Regions from separate parts of the Homo sapiens genome. Here regions 2 and 3 are each linked to region 1. The links come from fine-mapping of genetic effects on gene expression. A gene starts in region 1. Each other region holds a variant in brackets. All regions are shown on one strand. Distances are between the middles of the regions.

Region 1 (8,182 bases):
CATTCAAGATGGATTAAGGTTTAAATGTAAGACCTCAAACCATAAGAGTCCTAGAAGAAAGCCCAGGAAATACCATTCTGCATCAGCCTTGGGAAAGAATTTATGACTAAGTCCTCAAAAGCAATTGCAACAAAAACAAAAATGACAAATGGGACCTAATTAAACTAAAGAGCTTCTACACAACAAGAGACACTATTAAGAGAGTACAAAGACAACCCTCAGAATGGGAGAAAATATTCACAAACTACGCATTTAAGAAAGGTCTACAAATCAACAAGCAAAACAACAAATAACCCCGTTAAAAAGTAGGCGAAAGATATGAACAGACACTTCTCAGAAGAAGGCATACAAGCAGCCAACAAACTTATGAAAAAATGTTCATCATCACTAATCATCAGAGAAATGCAAATCAAAACCACAATGAGATAACATCTCACACCAGTCAGAATGGCTTTTGTTAAAAAGTCAAAAAATAACAGATGTTGGCGAGGCTGCAGAGAAAAGGGAACACTTACACACTGTTGGTGAGAATGTAAATTTGTCCTGCCACCGTGGAAAGTAATTTGGAGAGTTCTCAAAGAACTAAGAGCTGAACTACCGTTCGACCCAGCAATCCCATTACTAGGTATATACCCAAAGGAAAATAAATTGTTCTACCAAAAAGACACCAAACCAGATATTGAATGTTCTCACTCATAAGTGGGAGCTAAACATTGGGTACAAGTAAACTTAAAGATGGGAGGCTGGGTGCGGTGGCTCACGCCTGTAATCCCAATACTTTGGGAGGCCAAGGCAGGAGGACTGCTTGAGGCCAGGTTTGAGACCTGTCTGGGCAACATAGCAAGACCCCGTCTCTACAAAAAAAACATAGTAAAATAAAATAAAATTAGCCCAGCGTGGTGGCTCATGCCTGTAGTCCCAGCTACTCGGGAGGCTGAGGCAGGAGGATCACTAGAGCCCAGGAGTTCGAGCTAGCAGCGAACCATGATCATGCCACTGCACTCCAGGCTGGGCAACAGAGTGAGACCTTGTCTCTAAAACAAATAAAATAAAATAGAAACAAAGGGTTTGGATAAAACTGATGCACTACCTTCATTCTGTCACATTTTCATGCTTTCATGCTGACTGAGAGGGCACTCATCCTGGGAGTTCATGCCATCCAGATGGGCAGGGGTTAAACTGAGACCTGTCTAGGTTGAAAGAAGCAGTACGAAGGGACAGAGTGGGCGCAGGAAAAAGAGGCTTCCGAGAGCATGCCCTCCCCACTATTCCATACACACCTAAATGCCTGGTAAGATCTTTGCCAGCTCACTCACATGATTCCAAGATAGGGAGCTTCCCTTGATTCTGAGAGTAACTCAGCCCACCTAAATGGAGGAAGCAAGGGCCAAGCACAACCTCTTTTTTTTTTTTTTTTTTTTTTTTTTTTTAAGACAGAGTCTCATTCTGTCACCCAGTCTGGAGTGTGCAGTGGTACAATCTCAGCTCACTGCAACCTCTGCCTCCCAGGTTCAAGTGATTATCCTGCCTCAGCCTCCTGAGTAGCTAGGACTACAGGTGTGCACCACCATGCCTGGCTAATTTTTGTCATTTTAGTAGAGACAGGGTTTCACCATGTTGGCCAGGAGGCTGGCCTGGAACTCCTGACCTCAGGTGATCCACCCGCCTTGGCCTCCGAAAGTGCTGGGATTACAGGCGTGAGCCACCACGCCTGGCCCAAGCACAACCTTTTAGGGTCAGCCACCTGAAGTGGAATCCTGCATTGGCCACTTACTCCCTATGAATCCTAGGGCCAGTTAGGGATCCCTGGGTTTTCTCACCTAAGAAGGTAAGTACTTCCTTCACAGGCTTGTTTGGAGGATTCAATGAAATACACTCAAACTTCAGCTCCCTTCTAATCATTCTCTCTCCCTTTCCCAGAGACAGTATTTGGAGAATAACAGAAACCAAGCCTTGTTAGGAAAGTTTCTTTCAAATTAGCTTAGAGTTTAACATTTTTTTTCTAGAGCCCTAGGAAAAAAACGCCCAATCAGTGCAATAAAAATAGGCTCAAGTGTTCAGTTGGGTATTTTCCTCTCATATCTTTTAGTTCTTTGAAGTTTCTTCCAAATTATAATCCAAAAATAAGAGTGCTACAATTTTTAGAAAAGTTATGTTGATGTAACTTTTATAGCAAGCTACCCAAAGAATCAAGCTATATTATAGCCATGCTCAGTTATGAAGACCAAAACTATTTTAAAAATACCAGAACGAGAAAGTCCTAGTTTATTTAGTCTGGCTTCCTTAACATGAAGGTCTTGTTGTTCTCAAAATATTCAGCTTTGGCTGAATTCCAAAACTGACATAAGCCCACTTCAGGTGTTTGGAAGACACTAAAGAGAATCAGAATTGAAAACAAGATTGGAAAATAAAGCCTTTTATGTGATCACAAATGCAAGAAGTGTATTGTTTTGAAACTACTAAACCAAGTTTTTACCCACAAATGTAAACATAAATATGTATATATTCTCAACACTGGACGTACAGGGGACTAAAGGTTAATTTCCATAATATGGTATTATTCCTAACATTTGCTAACAGCTAAGTGCTTCAGTTACTAGAACTGCCTTAACATTTTCTGAAATTTGAGATAGGTTGAAAGATACATTTCTTTCATGGATTATGCTAGCAATCACTTTAATGGCGAAACTAATCTTATTATTAGGATAGCATACAGGTGTTTTAGACAATGTTAAATTACAAACTTTCTAGCCCACCATGGTTTATGGGGTAATAAAAAACAGGCCCTGGTTCTTTCACCAAAATCCTTACAAAGATAACACACAAGTTCAGTGTAAGTTGTAATGTTATTGCCTTTGGAAGCACTGTAATTACTTCAAAGTCTGGGTTGGTGAGAGGAAATTCAAGCTACTAAAACTTATCGAAGGTAAGGTGAGTTGGGAAGATCATCACATGGCATGCAAATTAATATAGTTACACTCTGCGTGCATGGTATGTCATCGTTCCCGTACTCTCAAAACTACACAGAGAAAAGGAGAACCTCATCTAAAACGGTCACAGGTATATGCAGAAAGAAAACAGGGACCAAACCTCACAGAAGCGAAACCGAGACACTGAAAGGAGAAAGACTGACTGGGGCAAATATCTCACACTGCTGGAGAACAGTTCAAGTCGATCGCATGGACCCAGGGCTCCAGCGCTGGGCGGTGGGTGGATCCATAGGTCTATCGCACAAGTACACACAGACTCTTGCACAAGCACACACGCTCTCTCCGGAGCGGCGAGCGACAGGAGCAGTCACGCAGCGGCGCTCGCTGCCCCCAAAGTGGGGCAAGAAGTAAATGCTTCCCGCCCAGAAAAATGAAATGCCCCGAAGACCGCCAGATTAAACGCGGGTCCCGACCGCGCGGGATGGGAAAGGGGTCACACACGCACCTGCATTGTAAAAGCGGTCCAGCACGGTGGTTTCTCCAAAGTCGAGTTTCCCAAAATGCAGGGTTTCCAGGGTGGCGCCCACTGTCTCGCACGCCTCCCGCAAGCTCTGCAGGGCCTCGCTCTCGGCCACCACCAGTTGCCCTTGGCTCGCTTCGTTGATCACATATGCCACCGTGGTCCGTCGGCTGCCCCCGCCAACAGAGCTGCCCCGGCCTCGGGTGGCACTGCTCGAGGAGGTGGCCGCCGGACAACCGATGCCAGGGGCAGCGGCGCTCTCCACGTTCCAGAAGCTGCCCGGCGGCGGCGGTGGCAGCTGGTGCTCCTCGCCCTCGCCCACCGCCGCCGCTCCTCCCCTCCTGCAGATGCCGCCCTCGGGGATGGTGCAGAAGCCCGAGGGGGCGAAGGGTGGCACAGAGAAAGTGATGCCCTCGTCCGCCTCCGTGCTCATCTCTCCGGGCCGGGCAGCAACGGCGGCGGCGTCCCCCGCCCAGCCGCACCGCCTGGCCAGCCACAGCTCGGGGCTGCTCCGCGCCCGCCGGGCTAAGCAGCTGCCATCGCGCGCCGCGCCCTCGCCGCCGCGCCGCCGCCTCCTCTCCGGCGCCCTCTCCCCCGAGGGCACGCCGCTGCCCGGCGGCGGCTCGCTCCTCCTCGGCGCCTCCGTGGCCGCGCCGCTCGCCCTCTGCAGAGTTTAGAGTACAAGGGGTGGGGAAGCCGGGTGAGCGGGAAGGGACGGAGCTTCCTTTTCTTGGCCGGCTGACAAGTCGGCTCGCAAACCTGCGCCGCGGTGCAGCTCAAGGGCGCCGCGCTCGGGGTGCAGCCCGCCCTCGCCACCCGCCGCGCCGCGCCGCGCCGCGCCGCGCAGCTCCTTCCGTCCCGGCCGCTCTGGGAGGGGCCAGGAAGGGCGCCCCCTGGGTGCGGAGCTACCTGGCGCGCACCTTACGAGCGGGCTGGCTCCCCAGGCGGCGTCCCGGAACAGCAGCAGCGGCAGCCGAAAGGACCCTCCTCCCTCTTAGGCGGCAGCTCGCCTTCATCGGGTGGATTTCCTCCTCCTTGCCTGGCCTCGTTTCTCTTTCGATCGCCTCCGCCGCGTGGTCCCGGCGCCAGCCTCGTCGTTCCTTGCAGACGCTCTCCCTCTCCACCACCAGCTTCTGGCCACCCACTCGTAGCGGCACCGAGGGTCAGGGCCAGCCCCCAAGGAGGGCGCTGCTAGGAAGCTCGAGCCCGGACTGAACTGACCGCGCTGCGGCCCTGGGACCCCAGCCCTCCTCTGAGTGCTGCGCGTGGCATAGGGTCCCAGTCTTCACCCACCCGGCCCCCACCTACGAAGACCTGGAGCGCAAGCGATTACGGGGTGGCGCAGAAAGTCCCTCGAGGCAATACTCGGTCTTCGGAGTCCGCCCCTGAAGCATTTCCAGTGTTCCCCGCGACTAGGGCGCCCCCCTCCGGGCCTTGGCGGCCTGGTGGACTGGGACCGTGCGCGGCGCTGGCAGGATAGGCTCCGGGAGACCCACGTTGCGCGAGGCAGGAGGTTGTACATAGCGCCCTGGAGCCAGGGCCTGCACTGGAGGTTGCTTCATTAGTGACTGTGGCACTCCAGAAGTGGCTGGCTAAATTGATCAGGTTCTCCCATGTACTTTTCCTTTTAAAATTTCCAGTGGCTCATTCCGTTATCAGTAATGAGTAATTGATTAGTGCCAACTGCCGAAGGACTTAGTATTCTCATTTAGGATCTTAATTCCCCCACAAGCGCCAGATACTTAAGATAGAAGATGGAGTCTCTACCCGACTCCACAAATTATCAACAAGATGAAACAGGGGAATAACGTGACCTATTCTATTTTTTAAACTGCATCACGCGAGGCCGGGAGGGAAATACCCAGATTGTTTAAGAGCAATCAAAAAAAGTACCTGCTTATTTGGGGAGCAAAGAACAGATGTGTAAGTTCCCAGAGAACCCCAGAATGCTGTAATTGTTAGGAAAGCCAGTGCAAGTTACAACTGAGTAAAGAAACAGGTTTTGTACTTCCCATCTCCAGGAACTGAGACTAGTGAGTCCTGTGAAAAAGGCAGAAGAAAATGTAAATTACTTTTTTTTTTTTTTGAGACGGAGTTTCGCTCTTCTTGCCCGGGCTGGAGTGCAATGGCGCGATTTCGACTCCCTGCGACCTCTGCCTCCCGGGTTCAAGCGATTCCCCTGCCTCAGCCTTTCGAATAGCTGGGATTACAGGCATGCGCCACCACACCAGGCTAATTTTGTATTTTTAGTAGAGACGGGAGGGGGAGGGGTGTGGGGTTCACCATGTTGGCCAGGCTGGTCTCTAACTCCTGACCTCAGGTGATATGCCCGCGTCGGCCTCCCAAAGTGCTGGGATTACAGGCGTGAACCACCCAGCCCAGCCATGAATTACATTTCAAACTGGGTAAGAAGGAAGGATAAAATAGCTGAATAGTAAAGAATTAAAGGAAAGTCTGGGCGCAGTGGCTCACGCCTGTAATCCCAACACTTTGGGAGGCCGAGGCGGGCAGATCACTTGAGGTCAGGAGTTCAAGACCAGCCTGGCCAACATGGTGAAACCCCCGTCTCTACTAAAAATACAAAAATTAGCTGGACGTGGTGGCAGCCGCCTGTAATCCCAGCTACTCGAGAGGCTGAGACAGGAGAATCGTTTGAACCCGGGAGGTGGAGGTTGCAGTGAGCCGAGATGGCGACACTGCACTCTAGACTGGGCGACAGAGCGAGACTCCATCTAAAAAAAGAAAAAGAAAAAGAATTAAAGGAAAGAGTTCTTTAATTTTCTCCAAGGTGGGAGGATTGCTTGAGCCCAAGAGTTCAAGATCAGCCTGGACAACATAGTGAGACCCCCATCTTAAAAAAAAATAATAATTAAAGGAAGGAAGGAAATAGTCATGAGGAAAAACACCTAGCCGCTACACAACTGTATCAATGAATCAATGTGACATTAGATTTTTCTAAAGGTGTATAAAATAATAGAAGTAAATTTCTAGTAAGGAAACTTTATATTCTTCATGTAAAATGGAATCTATGTGACCCACACTAGCTTTTGGAATTAATATCAATAGTAAAATAGGTAGTGAATCAGTGATTATACTGAAACAAAATGTTGCTGAGCTAGTAATAGTTATGTGCCTTTTAATATTTTCAACAACTTGTCAAACCTCCAAAACCTTGTAGGAGTAAGATAATCCTCCCCGCTATCCTCACCAAGAACCACAAACTCTGGAAATCGATGAGGTTCATGTGTGGAAAACTAAAACGCCTAAATGCTCAAGTAGCATTTTACTGTAGAAATACAAAATCTGAAATTATATATCAAGCTATTTTCCAAAGCTGTAACTTTTTATACCCTCTCACTTTGTGCTTTCCTTCCAGATCCTTTCAGAGCCATTTTCATACACAATTTTTATTTTTTGTTTTACTTTGCTGGCTTTTTTGATTTATTAACTTTAAATATGTTTTTTATGTTAGGCACCCAAACCCCAATACAATGTTGAAATTCTGCTTCTAGCTGGTCCAGAGATTCTCCCTCTACCTAAAAGGCACGGTTTAGGTAATTTATGTTCCATAGCATAGGGTTATGAGATAATGAGGAACTAGCTGGCAAGATTCTGGAAGAAAGGACAGGAATCCAGAGGGTGAGTCTACAGTCAGGGTTCCCTTTGGCTGTGGGATTTTTGTGGATCTGAATTAGGCAGCTGAAAGGCTGAAGTGAATTTTTTTAATGAAAAATAACGGTATTTTGCAAAACAAAACAAAAAGAATGGTGACACCGTTGTGCATTTTCACAAATCTTTTTAATGTCTGGCTTAATAGATGACAGTGGATTCTCATTTCTGCTTCTACATTCATGCTGTTGCAGCATGTTGTTTTGGTTGAAGGGTATAAAGAAAATCTGGAGAAGTTTCTGAAGTGTAGGAGGTATTTGAAGAAGTACATGAAGAAAATACTCTGGGAGGAGCACAGTCACTCCCACTGTGAAGGCACACATGAATTCCTAAAAATCACTGAGCTGTGCAAAATAGTGCTTTTTTTAAAGTAATTTCAAGTTTTATTTTAGATTCGGGGGTACATGTGCAGGTTACATGGATATATTGCATGATGCTCAAGTTTAGGGTACGATTGTTCTTGTCACTCAGGTAGTAGAAAGAGCACCCAACAGTTGGTTTTTCAACCCTTGCTCCCTCCTTCCCTCCCGTCCGCAGTGTCTGTTGTTACCATCTTTATGTCCATGTGTATCCAATGGGACCCTCTCCTGGGAAGGTCTTAAGACCCACAGTCAGAAAGGTGGGGGGTTGTTAGCAGGTAAAAGGAGAGCAGGAAAAAATTAGAGGCCTGCCTCTGAGGCCTAACACACTCAACATAACAGAAGACTATAACGAGGGTTATGGGAGTTACAAGCCAGAAACCACAGATGAAAACCAATATATATCGTAACACCACACTCTGTTCATAGTTTCTTTGGTTGTGCAGAAGCTGTTTAGATTAGGTCCCGTCTGTCAGTTTTTCGTTTTGCTGCAAATTGCTTTTCAGGACTTAGTCATAAATTCTTTCCCAAGGCCGATGTCTAGAATGGTATTTCCTAGGTTTTCTTCTATGATTCCTAGGGTTTGAGGTCTTACATTTAAATCTTTAACCCATCTTGAGTGAATTTTTGTATATGGTGATGGGTAGGGGTCCAGTTTTATTCTGCATAAGGCTAGCCAGCACCACTTATTGAACAGGGAGTCC
Region 2 (8,182 bases), 190 kb before region 1:
GTGTCAGCCAGTGAGGCCATTTGTAGATCAGGGGAAGGACGGGTTTAGGACAAAAGACATTAGAGCATGTGTATATGGAACTCACTGGGAGAGGCAGAAGCTGGAGGAGTCACGGGGGCTCCACAGGAGCCAGAACTCATCTGTGAGGGATTGGCCTTCTGTAGGAAAATGGATGTTTTCTCTATTGTAAGGGGTGGAAAGAGCAAGACAGGTGGTGCTGAGACAGTTTGCTTTATACGTTTGTGGTGGAAATATGATCAAATCCACGCCTGAGATTTCTACCTTCTTAAGTTATGACGATTTCCAGGCAAGTGAGAATGCGTAGTGCCTTTCTGTGTCACTGTAAATGGGAAGAAGCTCAAGTGTAACTATTTCCAGGGGAGCACGGTGACAGTTTCCAGATATCACAGAGGTTACAAGTTCCTCGAACATAAGCTCATACACGTGAGTGATTGGGACCCCAGGCTGCAAGAGAGGAGCCTGGCAGGATTTCCAGTCACAGGCAGCCTTACTGCTGATATCTTGCCAGGTATTAAGAAGCCCTCCTCTATGGGGCTGACCACGAAGAGTCTAAAAGAGGCTGAATGAACCTCTCTGAGGATAGGACATGTCAAAGGTGTGTCTCTAAGGAGATGATTCTCATTGCCTTATTTCAGGGGCTGATGGGAAGGGGTGTGAGCCCCATATCCCCTAAGAGATAGCTTTACCAAGAGGCCAGGAGTAGGCTGGAGTCAGGAGGGGTGACTGGCAACCCTATGGACTCCAGATTGCTGGGAGCTCCCATCTATGGAAGGGAGACAGTGCGACCTTTAAGGAATTAGATACATTCCTGCTTTGGGAAAACGGGGATTTTCTAAATCCCTTCCATTGCTGTGAGGGTGGCCTCAGATCCTAACAGCTATTCATGATCACTAGGGATCTTTATGGTTCTCCTTCTCCTAGACAGTTTAGGAACAGTCTGGCCACAACACAGAGTCTCCTAACTGGCCATCCTGCCTCCAGTCTCCAACTGGCCAAACATAGAATAGTGGTTCTCACACTGCAGTGATGACAAGAATCATCTGGGTTTACTTAAAAGTACAGAATTCCAGCTTGCACCTCCAGATTCTGAGAAGGGCCAGGCATTTTAATTTTTAACAAGCATTGCAAGAGATCCATGCAGGCAGGATCTGGGACCAACTGAGGCATAGCTATATTCCTAGTGCCTTGTGCCTACATTCTAGTGCCAAGTGCATAGCAGAGGGTTAAAAATGTTATGGAATAAATCTTACTAAATAAACCATCCTCACACAGCCATCGGAATGATCCATCAATAGCTTCACTGTCCAATATGGTCACTACTACCCACATATGGTTATTAACACTGACATTTAAATAATAAAAATTCAGTGCCTCAGCCATGGTAGCCATGTTTAGTGTCTAATAGCCACATATGACTAGTGGCTAATGTATTGGACAGGGCAGATAAATGACATTTCTCTTACTGTAGAATCATAGGTCCAGTGCTGGTCTATAATATTATTTCAGATAAAAATTTTCCCCGGCTCCCCAACCCTCCTTGCTGATTCCTTAACATTTCATAAGGAGCCCTTTGGGATCTGAGCCTGCTCCCCACTCCAGCATCATCCCTCCCCTTTTACTTTAAGCACCAGTGCTGCTGAGCCAGCAAGCCTCCCTTAACACACAGTAAAGTTTCACACATCCTGGCATTAACTCATGCGAGAAGTCGCCTCACCTGGATCTCCACTCCCCATTCACCTGTTAAGTTCATATTTGTCCTTACTCATCAGGTGCACCTCACTGGAAAGTCTGCCTTGAAACAGCATTCTCAGACTGACTTCAGTCACTGTCTCTCCCTTTTGACTCCTCTGCACAGACTAAACTATACTATGGTGGAGATGATTTTTTCCAGTGTTTTTCTCCTATAAGGTCAATGGCTCTTTAAAATCAGGAACTCTGTCTTTATCATCCTTATACGTTCAGGGCCTAGCACATTTCCTGTGCACACCATAACTGTACAATTAATATTTAAGCTGACATGAATTACTTAAATCTCTGGGTCTGTGTGTGGCCATGGAAGAGCAGTCAGGATGAGACAAGTCATGTCCCTCTCTAAAGGGGAAGGGGGTCTCATTGTCACCACCCTCTTACTCCCCTCTTGAGGGGAAGCCAAGTGCAGTTATGGGAGGTAGAGAACCTTGAGAGGTGGGCCTGTGCTCTGGACAGAAACACATATATGGCCTATAGAAAGTACCTGGGGAAGGAAGAGGCCTGTATCTTGTACTCATCTAGAAGGAGAGTAAGACGAGCTAATAGGTCATTGTTTCAATTGACATGAGGCAGGCCATTTCCTATAATACCTGGGAACAATCAAATGGGATTTTAGGCAAGGCATGGTGGCACATGTAATCCCAGCACTTTGGGAGGCCGAGGTGGTAGATCACTTGAGGCCAGGAGTTCCAGACCAGCCTGGCCAACATGGCGAAACCCCGTCTTTACTAAAAATACAAAAATTAGCTGGGCGTGGTAGTGGGCACCTACAGTCCCAGCTACTCAGGAGGGTGAGGTGGGAGGATCGCTTGAGCCTGGGAGGCAGAGGTTGCAGTGAGCTGAGATTATGCCACTGCACTCCAGCCTAGGACTCCGTCTCAAAAAAAAAAGGGGGGGGGGGCGTGGATTTTAGCTCCTAATTTGGTTAGCACATCTGTCCTGCTCTCCTAGGAAGGAGAGGGAGGAGGCACATCATCCATGTAATGATATTGTTTTAGCTGAGAGTCTGAACAGTTTAATCATGCAGGGAATTGGGGACTGCCCCTTTTTCTAGGCCCAAGTCCATATGTAAGCAAGAACGGCGAAAGGGCAGTGGGAACCTGACTGACTAGAGTTCAGCAGGTTTACACCGTCCATCTCACGCTCACCCCAAGGTACATAGTCACTGAGAAGACATAGAACTGTCCACTTAAAGGATCTCTCTCTCTCTCTCTCTCTCTCTCTCATATATGCACGCTCTTGCCAAGTGTGTATGGTTGAGTTCACAGAAGTTAAATGCGTGTGTGTGATGGGAAACTATTTCCTGCGAACAAAAACCAAGCCATGTGGAAGGGATAAAACAATCATGGATTAAACTTCCAGGCACAGCTCCAAGGCTCTTTTAGGATATTATTTTATTTTATTCCCAGAACCAAATCTGTGAAGTAGGTAATGTTACCAGCACCGAATGACAGAAGAAATATGCATGTCCCATATTTAGAAAGTGGGTCAATGGGATCAGAACCCACTTCTGTGTAATTCTGAAGTCAGTGCCCATTTTAGGACACCAGAAGCAGGCTGGTCAGAAGGTTGCCAAGCACTGCAGGGCCGACTTTGTGACAATGCAAGGCTGCCTTCCGGAGCCCAGGCTGTCTGTGGAGAAAAGAGGTACAAGGGTGTGCCTGTCTTCTTCTGAGTTTCCCCAGATTCTCAGAATGGAAGAAATGGAAGAAGAAAAAGTAGAGAGGCTGTACCCAGGAAACCCCAATTAACAGGCCTCTACTCTGGGCTGACTGGCTTTGGGGCATCAGAGGAACCTGCAAAAACCTGCCCTTGGCCTGCAGAACCCATGCACAATGAACATTAAGCCCCCTGAACTGTTTGATCAACCACACATCCAACTTAGGAAAATCCAACACCATGCTGTTAATTTTTTTTTTTTTTTTTTTTTGAGACAGGGTCTCGCTCTGTCACCCAGGCTGGAGTGCAGTGGTATAATCACGGCTCACTACAACCTCCACCACCCCAGTCTCAAGCGATCCTCCCACCTCAGCCTCCCTAGTAGCTGGGACCATAGGCATGCACCACCGCACCCAGCTATTTTTCTGTATTTTTAGTAGAGATGGGGGTCTCACCATATTGCCCAGGCTGGTATTGAATTCCTGAGCTCAAGCAATCTGACCATCTCGGCCTCCCAAAGTGCTAAGACTATAGGCGTGAACCACCATGCCCAGCCTCATGTTCATTTCTTTATTATTCTTCTAAATGCTTTAATGGATCTTCTTAGAGCAAATCTACTTTCTCTACCTTCCTAGTTATGATCCGCAAAAGCCAACGTTAGAAAACAAAGGCACAATAACTCCTGGCCACTAAAAATAGAATGTATCACCCCAAAGATGACAGAGGAAGGTATCTGGCATTTACATTTTCCACAAGAAATACATTAGGTAGTCAACTGGTTCCTAGATAAAGAAGCATTTACTTCACTCAAATTGAAGCTGTCAAAAACACAGTCACCATCTTGCTTTTAGGGAGAAAAAATTTAAGCCATCCCCACTCATGAAAGAGAAAGATGAAGGATTTCCAAAGGAATAAGCCCAGCCAGGCTTGCAGCTGCACACATCCTTATAGTATCTAGTACCGCACCCTCCTTTCCCCCCATGTAAGCCAGGAGCAGAGCATGAGGCTACTTGATGGGAAGTCTGGAGTTTATCACACCAGAC[A/G]CCAGGTCTCAGCTCAATGGGCAAAGTAAAAACAAACTCACCATTTGATCCAGCTGAAAGAGCTGTGGAAAGAAAAGCAAACAGCCATGAATAAGCACGTGCTGGGTTTGTTGTTAAACTGAGAAATCAACAAAAAATGAATGCCTGAAATGGGGTCAATGTCCTTTCCAAACATTCAATCTGCCCATTCTCCTCCAATATAAACATCAAAAAACGCCAAGAACAATTGGAACCTTTACTTTTTTTTCTGAGTTATAGACAATTATTGCAAAAATATAATGTACTTATATTTTTACACTACTGTTTTATTTATAGCTGGCAATCTTTTCTCTCTTTCTTTTTCCTTCTTGCCTTTTTTTGGGTGTAATTATTCAGAAGTATATACCCTAAGAGGCAACAGGTATTTTCTACTGCCTTAAAAGAACCTATTACCTACAGGGCTTGGAAATCCAACAGCTCTATAATGGCTCTGTAGGCCCATTTGTGGTAATCTGGGGTTTCAGCTCTAAAAGGCTAAATTTAACCCCTCTTACACTTGAACCTTAGTATCCACAATGTTAGAGTGATATAGATGGTGACATATTAACTACCTACTAACTATGTGATTGAAGACTATTATGTATGAGGTCCCAGCACTTGTGAAATTGATGGAATACAGCTCCCTGATACTGCAACCAAATGCCTGAGAACACTGTGCTAATATTTATACCAATTTCCAGTGATATCTGTAAACAGGTTAGTTTACTTCCGGAAAATTCTTCCATCTTAAAAGCTTAGGATTGAAGGACTCAGACTATATCCTCTTCAATGCAACCACATACCTGAAAGCTTAGGTTGTGTCTTTTTCTTTTTGCTTGAAACTTTTAAAAACTCATCAACAAGCAAGTCGTTAGCACAGGCTCTCTTGTCAGGATCTGGTTCAAAACATTTCAGTATGAATGCCTTGGCCTCTGCAGACATGGACTCTGGGATCTCAGGGTGGACTTTAAACATTCCCACCTAAGACATAAATATAAAAAGTGCAATGTGCCTTCTGAGTGAACATCTCAGCACCTGAACTCCAGCTTCCATAACTTGACCCCCCAATGCAACAAGATCCCTTATCATACAACACAAACTTATGGCTTTTCTCAAAGGGAGATAAGATGTGTTTGCTGCAGGTTATAGAAGATCAACAGAGTGCCTTGGTACCTTTACCAATGGCACAGGCAGAATAATTAGTTGAAGACAGTAGGCAGCACTATGAAGTAATAATTTAGTCCTTCAAAGCTTTAGAACATATTGGTACATTGGCACACAAAAAGGATCTTTATTTTTCTTTCTTTCTTTCTTTTTTTTGAGACAGGATCTCACTCTGTCACCCAGGCTGGAGTGCAGAGTGGTGCAATCTCAGCTCACTGCAGTCTCGACCTCCCAGGCTCAAGCGAGTCTTTCACCTCAGCCTCCTGAGGTAGCTCGGACTACAGGCATATGCCACCACGCCTGGCTAATTTTTTGTACTTTTTGTAGAGATGGGGTTTTGCCATGTCGCACAGGCTGGTCCAAACTCCTGGGCTCAAGCAATCCACCCACCTCAGCCTCCCAGAGTGCTGGGATTTCAGCCACGAGCCACCATGCTCAGCCACCGAGCTGAGACCACTGCGTTGCTCACAGTAGCTAAGTGCTGGGCATTGTGCTGGGGTTTCTCCACTTACAGATCTCATCAAATCCTTCCAACAATCCAGCGGATTAAATATTTTCCTTGTTACACCAATGAGGAAAATAAGGCTTAGAAAGGATGAGGTAACAAGGCTAAGAAAAGGGAGATCTGGGATTTGAACCTGAATTGTTCGGATTAAAGCCTATGTTCTTTTCCCTATTACATGATTTGTGAATATCTTCCCTGTCTCAAATCACCTGCATTAAAAGAGATATTTAAAAGCACTTTAAAATTAAACAATATTTTTATAACAATTAGAATTTACTTATTACTGCTATTCTAAAAAAAATTAATGGTATTTTCATTTTTTAGTACAGAGCAAATTTTCAAAGGAAATCCTTTTGTTCTTATACAGCTTATGTAAATTCATTGTAATATAAACAATATATAATTATTTGTAAGAATTATATAGCCGATACCATGTGTCAGACACAGTTCTAAGTGCTTGGTACATTTTACCTCATACACTCCTCAAAAAGCTCTTATTATACAGGTACTTTTTTTTTTTTTTTAAGATGGAGTCTCATTTTTTGCCCAGGTTGGAGTGCAGTGGTGCGATCTTGACTCACTGCAACCTCCATCTCCCCAGTCCAAGTGATTCTCCTGCCTCAGCCTCCCAAGTAGCTGGGATTACAGGTGCCTGCCACTGTGCCCCCCTAATTTTTTTTTTTTTTTTTTAGTAGAGATGAGGTTTCACCATGTTGGCCAGGCTGGTCTTGAACTCCTGGCCTCAGGTGATCTGCCCGCCTCAGCCTCCCAAAGTGCTGGGATTATAGGTGTGAGCCACCACGCTTGGCTGACAGGTACTATTTTTATCCTTATTTTATAGATGAGGAAACTGAGGCACAAGCAGGTTAAATAATTTGCTCAAAGTCTCAAATATCTTGACCATGTTGGAGCCTGGATTCAAACACTGTAAACTGGTGCCACAGTCTATGTCATGTCATCTCTCTAAGATAGCAACTTCCTGTGCACAGCTTAGACTGGCCTAATGTGACAAAAAAACACATGGTATAATAATCATTGCATTCGTGAATTATAAAGCAGCATTTCAGATAAGTCCTAGACACTGGAGAAAACCTGAAAGACTGGCCAAGAAGAGAAAGACATCCACTCATGGCAAGAAAGGCACCTCTCTTGGCACCTGCCATTGCTCTCTGAGGTTTGGTCACACTACTCATTTTTATACCAGCAGTGTCCTATCAGATTGTCTTCAAGCATAAAGCCAAGCTTTGCACAAAAGCAGAAGGTCTGTAACAACACATGGCCCCTCACAAGAGGCTATGCACAGATGGAATAAGAGCTAGAAACATGGTCTGCAGCAGGGAGAGGAATAACAATTACCATCAAAAGTCCTCTCAGGCCAAACGCGTGGCTCATGCCGGTAATCCCAACACTTTGGGAGGCCAAGGCAGGCGGAGGGCCTGAGCTCAGGAGTTTGAGACCAGCCTGGGCAGCATGGTGAAACCCCGTCTGTACTAAAATATAAAAAATTAGCTGGGTGTCATGGTGTGTGCCTGCAATCCCAGCTACTCAGGAGGCTGAGGCACGAGAATTGCTTGAACTCAGGAGACGGAGGTTGCAGTGAGCCGAGATCGCGCCACTGCACTCCAGCCTGGGTGATAGATCGAGACTCTGTCTCCACAAAAAAAAAGAAGAAAGAAAGAAAGAAAAAAAGAAAAAAAAAGAAAAGAAAAAGTCCTTTGCCTTGGATCCCACAGGGGAGCACAAAAAATAAATAAATAAATAAATAATTTTTTTTTAAGTCCTCTGCCTTAGAAAGTAGCAGATGTGTGAGTTTTACTACTTGGGAAGCATGTTTCCATTTCAAACTTCCTGTTGGCCTGGCAGTCTGGCAGCGGAGGACTGCAGGGATTCAAGATGCAGGTCATAGCCATGCTCAGTCCCCAGATCTCAAAATGCTGGCACTTGTGCTCTCATGAGCCTATTTCTATTATCAGGTACCTCCTACTGCAAAAGGTGGGGCTTCTTCCTCCTCCCATAGGAGTTA
Region 3 (8,182 bases), 51 kb after region 1:
ATTATTATGGAAGGTGTGTAATGGGTGCCTGGGGGTTTATTATACTATTCTCTCTACTTTTATGCATGTTTTAAAATTTCCGTAATGAAAAAACCTGAAAATTTAAGTTTCAGGGCTGGGTATGGTGGCTCATGCATGTAATTCCAGCACTTTGGAAGGCCTAGGCAGGGGGATTACATGAGCCCAGGATTTAGAGACCAGCCTGGGTAACATGGTAAAACCCTGTCTCTACAAAAAATTAAAAAATTAGCTGGTGTTGTGGTGTGCACCTGTGGTCCCAGCTACCCGGGAGGTTGAGGTGGGAGGATCAATTGAGCCCAGAAGGTGGAGGCTGCAGTGAGCTGTGCTCGTTCGTGGCACTGCACTCCAGCCTGGGTAACAGAGTGAGATCCTGTCTCAAAAGAGAAAAAAAAGAGAAAATTTAAGTTTCACCTTAAAAGAAATATATAGCCCTTTCTAATCACTCAGTAATTAAAAGTCAGTGACCCTTTCCTTTGTATTCATACAGATAATAATAAAAATTCTGGACATAGTTTTTTATTTGACAATTTTTAATTAAGTAGACCAACTTAAAAAGGGCAATGCTTTACAGTAGATTAAATATGAGCTCTTTGGGAATTGGTTTCAGTAATAAAATTTGTCCTCTCAAACTGTGGTTTTGATGAGGTTCAGATTTCATAAAGCAGCACAAAACATTGTGCGGTGGGTTTTTTTCTTTTCCCATTTTCCTGGTTAATTTTCTTCACCACTGCCAAGAGTAATTTAATCAGATAGGCCTCTAGAGGACCCTGCTCTTAAAGCATAAAGTCAGGCACTGCATATCTCTCTTCCTTTTTATATTTAATTTGACCATTTGCCATGCCCACTATTTGAGTGGGTGTGGACGGGGAGGTTGGGAATAAGGAAGAGATGGAAGAGGAGACTAATAGAAGATGTGCTTTTCATTCAGATTTGTTTCTCTTTTCCTTCATTCATTCCAGAAACTTTTATTAACTCTACTGTGTGCAAGATACTGTACCAGGCTAGCTGGGAAGACAAAACACCTTAGGCATGCCCTTACCCTCCTGGGGTCCTTGCACTGTCTGGGGAGGCAGGATTCTGGTTGTCTAATGTCTAATGTGGTAAGCGCTGTGAATGTATGCAGTGTTATGGGAAGGGAGGATTTGTCTGGGGAAGGGGCAGGGAGGGCATCCTTTGGTCTAAAGGGGAAGTTGGAATGAATTATTCAAGTGGAGAGGCCAGGGTAGTAGTGTTAGAGGCAAATGAAAGAGCATGCTTGACCAGAGAGGATAGAGCCTGTGTGCTTAGAGCTGTCAGCGTTTTGGCCATTGTGCCAAGATCAGTGGAAAGACATTGCAGATTTTAAAAATCAATGAAATATTTTATACATTATAAAATACATGTAAGATGTAAAAATGGTATATTGAACACACATATTCACCATCTAGCTTAAGAAATGAAACATTACCTATACCATTAGCGTCCCCTGCTTACCCTTTCTAGTCTTATCGTTCTTCTCTCTGCTTTTTTTTCTTCCTCGCTTCTTCCCAGGAGTAACCACTAGCCTGAATTTTCTATTTATATATTTTTTGCTTTTCTTTCTATTTTTACTACATATGTATGCATCCCTAAGTCATGCATAGTTTTGCATGATTTTGACCTTTGGGTAGTAAGAATCAGCATGGATGAATCTCACATAATGTTGAGCGAAGATGCTAAGTTGGAGCTACATATAGTGTGAAACCACTGAAAGGCTTTGCACAGGGGAGTGACATTTAATTTGTATTTTCTAAAGATTACTTTTTATGCAGTGTGGATAATGGATTGGAGGTAAACAAAAATGGATGGGGAGAGCAGTTAGAAGGATGTTATAATCTAAGTGGTAACTTATGGTTGATGGTTGTAACCTCTTAAGAGAAATCATAGACAAATTCTTAGCCATAGCCCTTTAGGATCTTATCCCTCCCAGCTATTCAACCTTGCTCTTCCCTGAATCTGGCAAGCTTGTTCCCTGTTAAGGTCTTTCCCTGTTCTCTGTAACCTGAGCCTTTCATCTCGGGTCTGCAGAGTTCAGTCTTTAACTGCACTCAAGTCTCTGCACAGAGAGGTCTTTCCTGGCCATTTTGTTGAGAAGTGACCCCCTGCCCTTGTCATTATTTTCTGTTCTCCTTACTCTGCTTTTTCTTTGTAGTTTTTAAAAAAATTGCAACTTGAAATTATACATTTATTTATAGCATGTTTGCTGCTGCTAAAATATAAGATCCATGGGGGCTGGTCTTATCTAAAATTGTAACCTCCTTTCCCCCCGTGCCTAGTACATAGTAGGTGCTCAATAAATATTTGTTGAATAGATGAGTGAATTGATTGAAGTTGGGATAATGGAATTCATTCTTCCCTTTTCAGCTGTTTCTCAAACATCTCTCTGGCTGTGAACTTTTTTCAGAGCTTGAGGTTAATGCCCAAACCCTGTCTTGCTGTCACCTCAAACTCAGTATATATAAAATTACATTATTTTCCTTCCTCCAGTCTTTCACTTTTGTTAATGCTGCCATCACTGACAGTCCTCAGGCACAAAACCTTGGTGTTATCTTGCAGTGTTCACTACCCCCGATCCCTAGGGTGCTGTATATTCCCATTTATGTGTTTGAGGAAGTTTTCTGGTTACTGTTTCACCTCTGCTTTTTGCCTATTGACATTTTAGCCAGCCCTCAGGGCCCTGCCTCAGTCTTTCTCTTCTGAGCACGAAGCTGAATTTCCATCCAAGCACCCCTTTTGTACTTATGTTTATAGTTTGTTTTGTTTTGTTTTTGAGACAAGGTCTTTCTCTGCTACCCAGGCTGGAATGCAGTGGCGTGATCACTGCTCACTGCTGTCTTGACCTTGACCTTGTGGGCTCAAGCCATCCTCCCACCCCAGCCTCCTGGGTAGCTGGGACTACTGTTATAGGTCACCACACCTGGCTAATTTTTAAAATTTTTTATAGAGACGGGGGTCTCGCCATATTTTCCAGGCTGGTCTCGAACTCGTGGCCTCAAGCGGTCCTCCTGCCTCGGCCTCCCAAAGTGCTGGGATTACAGGCATGAGCCACCGTGCCTGGTGTAATTACTCTTTTTTTAAATTAAAAAAAAAAACCCACACAGTCTCCTGATCTGTTAGTTCCTTTCCCATGTCCTAATATTTTAAACATAGTATTGAGTTGCCTTTCTTTTCTTTTTCTTTTTTTTTTTTTTGAGACAGGTTCTCACTCTGTCACCCAGCTTAAAGTGCAGTGGCACAATCTTGGCTCACTACAACCTCCACCTCCTGGGAGCGATTCTCCTGCCTCAGCCTCCTGAGTAGCTGAGACTGCAGGTGCCTGCCATCACACCTGGCTAAATTTTATATGTTTAGTAGAGACGGGGTTTCACCATGTTGGCCAGGCTGGTCTTGAACTCCTGGCCTCAAGTGACCTGCCCGCCTTGGCCTCCCAAAGTGCTGGGATTACAGGCGTGAGCCACCACACTCAGCCTATTTCCTTCTTT[A/G]TGATCCCATTTTTAACTTCACCACCATGTGTGTCCTATCTTTAGCTCTGTCATAGAGACCTAATGCTTGCTACTTGGTTGTGCAACAGAAGACAGCTGACAGCAACAATGCCATCAGCATGGTTTTCTTACCTTCTATCTTTGATGTTGATTCAGGCTGGATTCTCTTGAGCCGGTGGAGGCTCCTGCAGTTTTAGAAGGTGAGTAGTCATAAGGTGTCACCTGCTGCATCACACTGGAAATGTGTGGAGGCAGTGGAGTCTGAGCTGATGATGAGTATTTACTTAGTAGTTCTCTGTACCTACCTAGCAGTGATTCAGGTTGTAAAGAAAAATTTAATTGGTTAAATTATTTTAACCAATGTTTGAGTGCCTATTTTACTGTGATGAACATAGATGTACAAGATGTTTTGCTCATTAGGAGTCTCCAAAATCTAGCAGGTATGTGAGTTATGTAACATTCTTTTTAGTAAATAAAATATGGTAAATGCTGAGTTAGAAGTAGGTGTGAGCTGCTGTTGAAGGCAGCATATGACTCATTGAAGGACTTATCAGGGGAGGCTTATTTCGTAAGGGATGTAATGGGGCACGTCTTGATGGATAAATGGAAATTCACAAGTGGAGAGGGGCTTTAAGATCTGTGTATAGGTAATTCATGAAAACACAGTGGAATCAATCTAGGCCCAAATGTAGCTCCAGTAAAGGGTGAAACCAGCAGGGGTAGAGCTTTAGTTCCTTGATATCATGGCTTAAGGTAGCCAAGAAGTTCTGATTCAACAGTGCCCTCAAGTAGCATGCTGTACAGATAGCCTCACATTGCGATTAAAAGTGGACTCTGCAATTAGGCTGCCCACGTTCAGATTTCATATCTGCACCTTACTAGCTTTGGGACTCTGGACAAGTTACTTAACCTCTCTGGGCCTTGATATAGTATCTACTTCATATAAATGAAGATTAAATGAAATAAAATACATAAAGTGCTTATGAACAGGATCTGACACTCAGAGTGTTCAATAAAGGTTTGCTATTTTTATTTTTGACTGTTTACATCAGCCTAGAGCAGGGGTTGGCAAACTACGTCATGTGGACCAGGACCAAATCTGGCCTGCAGTTAGATTTACAAATAAAGTTTTTTTGGAATCAAGCCATGCGCATTCATTCGGTATTGACTATGGCTGCTTGGTGTGTGCTATAAGAGCTGGGTTTAGTAGTTGTGACAGTGACCAAATAGCCTGTAAAATCTAAAGTATTTACCATATGGCCCTTTATAGAAGAAATGTACCTTTTTTGAAGAAACTTACCATTTACTATATGGTCCTTTGTAGGCGAAATTTAGAGGATAAAATCAAACTCTTTAGCTCTCAAGATCTTCAGTGATTGCTTCCAAACCAGCCTTTTTTCTATCCATAACTAACAGATGGCCACAGCAGCTCTTTGGTTTTCACTGGCCCTTCTATTCCTTTTATAGCTGCTGTCTGTTGCTGGATTGTGCTTCCTTTAGTGTTCCAACTACTCTTCTGTCTTTTGCGTGAATATGGGCAGAGGCAGGGCCAGGACTAGGGTAGAATGTGTGAGGCACTCACTCTAGGTACACAATTTAAGGGGGCCCCAAAAAACTTGATAATCAAGATAATTTGTTAATGTTTTTAAAAATAAAAATTAATGCAAAAAACCCATTATGAACAAAATATCGATATTTTACTTTTTTTGAAGCTTAATATTAATTTTATTAAACTTTTTTCCAGGTTTATTATGATTGGCAAATAAAAATTTGTAGGCTGGGCACGGTGGCTCATGCCTGTAAACCTAGCACTTTGGGAGGCTGAGGCGGTAGGACTGCTTGAGCCTAGGAGTTTGAGACCAGCCTGGGGAACATGGTGAGACACTGTCTCTACAGAAAATAAGAAAAAAATTAGCTGGGTGTGGTGGCACGCAAGCGTGACTCCAGCTACTTAGGAGGCTGAGGTGTGGGAGGACCGCTTGAGCCCAGGAGGTCATCGCTGCAGTGAGCTGAGATTGTGCCCACTGCACTCCAGCCTGGGCGACTGCGCAAGACCCTGTTTTGGAAAAAAAAAAAGAAAAATCTAAGTTGTACAGCTTAGGGTTTTGATCTAAATATATCTTGAGTAATGATTCCTACAGTCAAGCTAATTAACATATCCATCACTTGAATGGTTACCATTTTCTTGTGTGTGAGATAAGAACATTTCAGATCTACTCTCAGCAAATTTCAAGTATTCAGTAATACATTATTATTTATAATAGTTACCATGGTGTACATTGAATCTCTAGAAATTATTCATCTTATAACTAAAAGTTTGTATCCTTTGACCAACATATCCCCATTTCCCCCACCCCCAGCCCCTGGCAAACACTACTCTACTGTATGTTTCTCTAAGTTTGACTTTTTTAGATTCCACCTATAAGTGACGGGATCAGTATTACTGATGTTTTTTTTCCTCAGCCTCCAACATGGCTCAATATAGTACTGGGCAGCAGAGAGAAAGTAACCCACATGTAAGCGGCTTAAGCCCAGATACTCATACTTCCTACGTATATGTGGGAGAGAGTAGTAAGATTCAAAGTAACCTGCTGGCTGATCACCAATGTGATATACCAATGGCATATACTCAGGTCCTTGTCAGGACTAATTTCATAAAGTATAATTATGCACATATTTTGTTGAACTTAGTTTACAGCAGTGATCTGTGTATAATCTGTTGTATAAAATGAAAGAATGAAAACATTTCCAAAAGTTTTCAAGTAGTTCATTTGAAATGGTTCACTGAGAGCAGTGAAGCATATACTTTAGAATAGCAGCATTGGATAACTAAAACTGTTTACCAAGAGATCTGGAAGGATCACCTGGTTCCTGCAAGCTTTTTCTAAGAAAGGCCAGATAGGGATATTAATTGAATTTTAATGCTTTCCAATAAACATTGACCCAGCAAGCTTTTTTAGATGACTAACTTTCTAATCTGCTTTGACATTTCTTCGTGGGGCTGCAAACAGTGATTTGTTGGTAGGTTTTAAAATATGTATAATTTGTTTTAGTGAAGAAGGTTTGGAAGTATACTGTAGAATTCTGTGAAAGCAGAATGGAGTCTTATCTGTAAGGAATAAGTCTGGAGGAATGGACAAGATCAACTTTTCATTTCTCAGACACCTTGTTGAGATGGATAGGAATTATTTGATGTTTTGACATAGTAAATTAGTTGTTCTGCCTCTCATTGTTATGTAACAAGAGATAAAATGCAATGTTGAACTTGATGGTCTTTTGCTTTCTAAACACTTTTCAATGTTTTTAGGTGTATAGTGTTGATTGGAGCCAAACCAGAGGTGAACAGCTTGTGGTGTCTGGCTCATGGGATCAAACTGTCAAATTGGTATGTTAGCATTATTGTATTCAAAAACGAATATTCCCTTCTCTAGAGCTTCCACTAAATTTTCTTCTCTTTTTCCAACATACTTCTGTAGCTCTATGATTCGACAGCTGAGCTTTCTTTTAAAAAAAAAATTAAAACACTTATTAGAACTTAAAATTTTCTAATCTTTTGGCTGTGAACTAATAGTTAGCTCAGCATTAGTTTGGCCCTTAAATACAGTCTTGCTTTATATCAAAACAGATCTTTAAAAATCCTTGAGATCTGTATATATATTGTATGCATATATATAAATGTATATAGTTTATTGGTGTATGTAGTATATGTAAAAGCATAAATTTGAATTTATCCCTCAAGTAATTGATCTATTCATTTATTTGTAGTGGGATCCAACTGTTGGAAAGTCTCTGTGCACCTTTAGAGGCCATGAAAGTATTATTTATAGCACAATCTGGTCTCCCCACATCCCTGGTTGTTTTGCTTCAGCCTCAGGTAAATTATTCTGTATTTACCAAAAGCCTTACTTGTAGTGAATGGTGGCCTTGTTTTTACCATTAGGTGGCGCTGTGTACCTTAGCTTCAGAGAGAAAACAGGAGAATATTACTATTCTTTTGTGTTCTTAAGACTTTACTTCTTTTTTTATTTTTATTTTTTTATTTTTATTATTATACTTTAAGTTCTAGGGTACATGTGCACAACGTGCGGGTTTGTTACATGTGTGTGCATGTGTGCCATGTTGGTGTGCTGCACCCATTAACTCATCATTTACATTGGATATATCTCCTAATGCTATCTCTCCCCCCTTCCCCCACCCCATGACAGGCCCCGGTGTGTGATGTTCCCCATCCTGTGTCCAAGTGTTCTCATTGTTCACTTCCCACCTATGAGTGAGAACATGCGGTGTTTGGTTTTCTGTCCTTGGAATAGTTTGCTCAGAATGATGGTTTCCAGCTTTGTCCATGTCCCTACAAAGGACATGAACTCATCCTTTTTTATGGCTGCATAGTATTCCATGGTGTATATGTGCCACATTTTCTTGATCCAGTCTATCATTGTTGGACATTTGGGTTGGTTCCAAGTCTTTGTTATTGTGCATAGCGCCGCAGTAAACATACATATGCATGTCTTTATAGCAGCATGATTTATAATCTTTGGGTATATATCCAGTAAATGGAATGGCTGGGTCAAATGGTATTTCTAGTTCTAGATCCTTGAGGAATCGCCACACTGTCTTCCACAATGGTTGAACTAGTTTACAGTCCCACCAACAGTATAAAA

The links. PIP is the estimated chance that this variant, and not a neighbour inherited with it, causes the effect.
Region 2: its variant is the best candidate, but not a certain one, in a credible set for the expression of MAP3K5 in thyroid (GTEx, PIP 0.71).
Region 3: its variant is the best candidate, but not a certain one, in a credible set for the expression of MAP3K5 in whole blood (TOPMed, PIP 0.53).

The regions. Positions count from the first base shown.
Region 1 is chr6:136,788,275-136,796,456 of GRCh38, forward strand. It overlaps MAP3K5 (mitogen-activated protein kinase kinase kinase 5), which reads right to left and starts at 4,203. Exons shown (of 30, transcript NM_005923.4): 1 at 3,436-4,203. The coding sequence starts at 3,883. RefSeq lists enhancers at 2,953-3,468, 3,574-3,643, 4,434-4,663, 4,774-4,833, 5,204-5,283 and a silencer at 3,774-4,413.
Region 2 is chr6:136,596,509-136,604,690 of GRCh38, forward strand. It overlaps MAP3K5 (mitogen-activated protein kinase kinase kinase 5), which reads right to left. Exons shown (of 30, transcript NM_005923.4): 20 at 5,294-5,471; 21 at 4,514-4,534. Among named protein-coding and RNA genes, the nearest start is that of MAP3K5-AS1, 29 kb to the right of the region's middle. The variant A/G (reference allele first, on the strand shown) is at 4,473.
Region 3 is chr6:136,838,787-136,846,968 of GRCh38, forward strand. It overlaps PEX7 (peroxisomal biogenesis factor 7), which reads left to right. Exons shown (of 10, transcript NM_000288.4): 4 at 6,829-6,906; 5 at 7,287-7,395. Among named protein-coding and RNA genes, the nearest start is that of PEX7, 20 kb to the left of the region's middle. The variant A/G (reference allele first, on the strand shown) is at 3,522.